Linked DNA regions of Homo sapiens: region 2 is linked to region 1. The links come from fine-mapping of genetic effects on gene expression. Tissue or cell type: whole blood. Region 1 holds a variant in brackets; the other region holds the start of a gene. All regions are shown on one strand. Distances are between the middles of the regions.

Region 1 (2,854 bases):
TTTCAATTGACTTGAGCTTAGATTTAAAAAGACTCATCTAATTCATAAGTACTTATGAAATATCACAGTGGAAAAAACATACAAGGTTGCTGTTCACTTGTGGGGCAGGGTACAGAAAATAGCATGTACTTACATGGTTACATAAATGCATAAATAAATAAGAGAATTTCAGATCATTAAAAATAGTAATATCATAAAACAGTGGTAGGCTGGTATCTACTAGAGTACTTTTCTGCCTAGAGGCAGTTAGAGAAACCCTCTCTAAGGAGTGCTGAAATTGTGACCTGAGACTTCAGTGCTGAGAAAGAGCCAACTATATAAAGATGCATAGGAAAAGAGGGCTCCAGTACAAACAGTCCAAGAAAGGAGCAAGTTGACCACTAGATGATGAGAAAGAGTGGTGAAACCACAAGGTTAGAAACGTAGTTCAACTTTTCCCATTTTAAATAAACCTATAGATTTCTCTGAATAGTTTCCTTTGCTGATCAACAGTGGAGCCTGATACATAGCAGGGGTACAATAAGTGCTCATTAAAAAAGAAACAAATCTCAAAAATGAAGAATGATATTATAGTCCTGATATTTTGGATCAACTTTTATTGTTACTATCTGGTCAAGACAAAAATTATGAAAGTCTAATGTTATAATACCATACTGAATTTTCTGAGTTGCGATGTACTGCATAAGAATTCGATAATGAGAAATTTGTCATCATACACAACAATTTTAATAAAATGAAATAATGTATGTAAAAACAGAATCATAGAATCAATAAATTCTAACACAGACATCAGAGATCATCTAAACTCTCTAGCTACTTGAAATGTGATTTAAGGACAAGGAACATCAGCATAACTTTGGAATTTGGTAGAAATGGGGACCTTCAACACCCAACCCAATTTACAAATGAGAATCTGCATTTTAATATGATCCCTCAGTGATCCTTAAGTACATTAAAGTGTGAGTAGCTCTGCTGCACAACGGTGGTTCCCAAATACTAGATTGCAGTCCCTATGAAAAATCATTTGGAGTAATAATCTTTTATTTTTAGATCAGTGGACCTCAACCCCTGAAGAGTAAAATTCTGGAGTGAGGTGTGCATATGAAACAACAACAACAGCAGCAACGACAACAAAATAACAGAAATTATCTAGTTGATTCTGATGCATCCTAATTCTTTCATTTGTAGGGTTGACAGATTTAGCGAATAGTATGCAATATATTTACATTAAAAATTATTCATTATTTATCTGAAATTCAAATTTAACTGGGCATCCTGTAGCTTATTTCACAATTCTATTCATGTGACACAATAATAGAGACTCGATTTAAATCTCTTTTTAAAAATCCATGGCTAAATATATCGGAACTGATTCAAAATGAGTTCTCTTGGTATGAGAGTTATTTGTAAAACGTAAATATATAAAAAGTAAGGTATTGGTACCTGTGTCAATTAAATAATATTCTACTTTTCTTCATTTGTTGATTTTCATATGCAGCTCAATCAGGTTATTGTAGATAGCAC[A/G]TAAAAGAGAAAATTATGTGTCTCTAACTGTAAGAAAACCAAATACAATTTATTATAACACAATTGTTTTCTTCTGAATAAACTAACGTGTCCACTTAAGGAAAAAAAAGTTAAAGGTTTTCTTTTTTTTCACTTTTTATCCTTTAATAATACCTTGTAACGGTGATTTTTTTTTTGTTAACTCTCAACTGTGGACAAATTTGAACATATGAAAAATATTAAAAATCTATATAATAGCTATTTAAATGAAGAGTATCTCTAACTGAAACAGTCTGAAACCTAAAGTCTTCTCATACAATAATATTTGCTATTTTTTAAAAAAATAAAGGGGTTTTCCCTATTAGATAACACATGAACATCATATTTAGAAAACAGAGAAAGAAAAAACTTACCCGTAACTTTATCAACAGAATGCAATCATTCTAATGGTTGAACATATTATTTTCTAAATATTTTCCCTGTAAACACTTTTTTCGTAGTTACAATAATATTGTACCATAGTGTATGATAATAGTGCTTTTCGGCCTCATAAGTACTTCCTTTTTATTACAAATAACACTGTATTTATTGTAGATCTAATGTCTAGTCAAGTAAATACACCTAAGTTTTATTTTTTCCTTTAATTCTTTTGGGTCTGGGACGTATTATACAAATTTAAGCCTTTCATTAATCATGCTATGTCAGACTCTTACAGCAGAATAGAAGAAAATGTGTCCCTTCTACATCTTATCCCTTATAAAACTCTTCAGTCTTAAGAGAACTGAAATAAGTAACCCTTTAGGAAAGGGCAGGGCTTCAGTTTCTGGCCAGTTACCCCAAATTCCTATTATTTGAAAATAACAGAAATGTAAGCTGGTTCTCCCATGCAAGTACTGTGAAAGCTCGGAGAAATTCAACTACAGCTGTCACTCCAATGTAAGACTAAATCTAATTTGTTGGGTGGAAAGAGTTAAATGAACTTTAACTGAAAAGCTCTCGTTCTCTTCCTCTCAGGGTAGAAAATAGCCAAGGGCAACAGCGGATGACTAATGTGTAGAATATTGCAATTAGTATAGCAAGGTACTTACAGGGATCAAATTAAAAAATTCATTAATGTACGCACTTAATTAAGAAACACTTTTCGGTTTACATGATAAATTATGACACCTATTAAATCTTCCAGTACAAGCTGTAATGGCTTCTTTGCTCCTGGGTAGAGAACTATTGCCTTTGAGGTCCTTTGAAACTCCCCAAGGACCAGCAGCATTAGTTACAAGTGTATTAAAAACAATGCTTTCCCCCTGCAAGGTGCAAAAGCATCTTTATTGGAAACTAATTTAAACTTAAGAAA
Region 2 (2,677 bases), 40 kb after region 1:
GTGAATTCTTATCCATTCTGTCATTTTGTATCTTTTAAGTGGAGCATTTAGGCCTTTTACATTCGATGTTATTATTGAGATGTGAGGTACTGTTCTATTCATCCTGCTAGTTGTTGCCTGACTACCTTGTTTTTTTTTTTGTTTGTTTGTTTTTGTTTGTTTTTTATTGCTGGTGAGCTTGTGTGATCATTTGGGGTGTCAATGAATCTTGCTTTGTCATATCATCAGAATTGTTTTTCTGGTTCCTTCTCATTTGGGTAGACTATTTCAGAGGAAAGATCTGGGACTCAAGGGCTGCTAATCTGATTTTTTTTTCCTATGGGGTGATCCCTTGATGTGGTGTTCTTTTTCTTCCCCTAGAAATGGAGCTTCCTGAGAATAAAACTGCAGTGATTGTTATTGTTCTTCTGTGTCTAGTCCCCCAGTGGAGCTACTGGGCTCTGGGCTGGTATTGGGGAGTGTCTGCAAAGATTTCTGTGATGTGATCCTGTGAAGACCTGTCTTCAGGTCTCTCAGCTGTGGATGCCAGTACCTGCCCCAGTGGAGGTAGCAGGGAAGCAAAGTGGACTCTGTGAGAGTGCTGGTTGTAGTTTGTTTAGTGTGCAGATTTTCTCGAATGCTGGTTTGCTAGCAGTGAAGCTGTCATGTGGACAGACTCAGGACCTCTGGTTAGCCAGGGTGTTACAGGTGGTGTTTTCTCCTTTCTTGGAGTAGGATTGTTCTAAGTTGCTGTAATGGCTTGAGTTGGTTGACTTCCAGCCAGGAGGTGGCACTTTTAAGAGAGCATCAGCTGCGGTAGTAGAAGGGGGATACAGGCTTGCCCTAAGTTGGCCAGGGTAAATATTCAGTCGTCTCAGGTAATAGGTGAGGCCATAGAGCTCCCACAAGTTTATATCTTTTGTCTCTGGTTACCAGGAAGGGTAGAGAAAACCATCAGGTGGGGGCAGGGTTAGGCAGGTCTCAGCCTAGACTCTCCTTGGGCTTGCAGTGGCCACTTTGAGGGATATGGGGTGTGTCTCAGGCCAATGGAGTTATGTTCCATGGGAGATTATGGCTGCCTCTGCTGCTTCCTACAGGTTGCCAGGTAAGTGGTGGAAAGCCATCAGTGACAGGCCTTACCCAGCTCCCATGAAACCAGCAAGGCCAGTCTCATTCCTGCCATACTCCCCCAGCAGCCAACAGTGCCCAATTTATACCCAGGCCTCTGGTGCACAGGGCTGAGATCCTGCCCCAGGCTACAAGACTCCCTGCTGAGAGAGCAAGCATGGCTTTCAGTCCTCACCCTTCCCTTCCTGTTGCGGCTTCTGTGCTCCTATCTGTACTTCCCGTTCCCCACACCCCAACCCCCTGGACTCTGCCCAGGAAAATTTGTCGTCTTTGGAAATTATTACAAAGTTCAGCTGGAAGTCTCCTTCTCCCTGTGGACCTTCCCCAATTCCACTGGCTGCCCTCCTCAAGGACCCCTGTGAGATAAATTCAGAAATGGCTATCCTTGGCTTCCCTGGGGAACAAGAGTGCCTGCAGTTCTTTTCCCACTTCTTTTACTTTTCTATTTCACTGGGCTCTCTAAATTCATTTCAGCTCTAGGTAAGGTTAAACTCTTCTCCCGTCTTCTGGATTTTCAGGTTCTCCAGGGCCGATGTATGTTTGGAGATGGATTTCCCCCTCTCACACTTCAGGCACTCAGTTTTTTGGCAGTCTCATGGAGTTTTCAGTGGCAAGCCGCTTATTTCAAATGGTCTGTGAATTCTTTTGGTTTTTCTGATATGTTCCTGGTGTGATTCTTCACCAATTTTATCTCGAATTATATTTTATTCTACATTATGATTGCTATTATTTCCTTATTTTTCTTTGTATTTATGATATATTTCTGCCATTTAAAAAATTTCTTACTACTTCTCTGACATTTGACTTTTGGTCTTTTTCTATTAAGTAAAGATTTTAAAATAATGTTTTAATTTGAGAAACTTTAGTTTTTAATTGAACTACTAAAACGTTTTACACTAATTATATTATTCTTTCTGATCTTGTCAGAGATTCTCTATTTTGCTCACCTATTTCTTTTCTAGCTGATGTTTATTATATTGACTATATTATTATTATTTTTTCTTTTAGGGATTTGGAAAGGATTCCGTGATGGTTAATATTGAGTGTCAACTTGATTGGATTGAAGGATGCAAAGTATTGTTCCTGGGTGTGTCTGTGAGGGTGTCACCAAAGGAGATGAACATTTGAATCAGTGAGCTGGGAGACACAAACCCATACTCAATCTTGGGGGACACCATCTAATCAGCTGCCAGTGCAACTAGGATAAAATCAGGCAGAGAAATTTGGAAAGACTAGACTGGCTGAGTCTTCTGGCCTTCATCTTTCTCCCATGCTAGATGCTTCCTGACCTCGAATATCAGACTCCAAGTTCTTTAGCTTTTGGACTCTTGGACCTTTGGCCACAGACGGAAGGCTGCACTTTTGAAGTTTTGGGACTTGGACTGGCTTCCTTGCTCCTCAGCTTACAGATGGCCTATTGTGGGACTTCACCTTGTGATTGTGTAAGTCAATACTCCTTAATAAACTCTGCTTTATATATATATCTATCCTATTAGTCCTGTCCCTCTAGAGAACCCTGACTAATACAGATACACAGAAAGTTCAATTTTCTAAATTTTAAGCATTTTAA

Evidence for each region. PIP is the estimated chance that this variant, and not a neighbour inherited with it, causes the effect.
Region 2: LINC00989 starts here. The variant in region 1 is fine-mapped to the expression of LINC00989 in whole blood (INTERVAL, PIP above 0.99).

The regions. Positions count from the first base shown.
Region 1 is chr4:79,451,154-79,454,007 of GRCh38, forward strand. No RefSeq gene overlaps it. Among named protein-coding and RNA genes, the nearest start is that of LINC00989, 40 kb to the right of the region's middle. The variant A/G (reference allele first, on the strand shown) is at 1,525.
Region 2 is chr4:79,491,037-79,493,713 of GRCh38, forward strand. It overlaps LINC00989 (long intergenic non-protein coding RNA 989), which reads left to right and starts at 1,557. Exons shown (of 4, transcript NR_038826.1): 1 at 1,557-1,738; 2 at 2,116-2,549.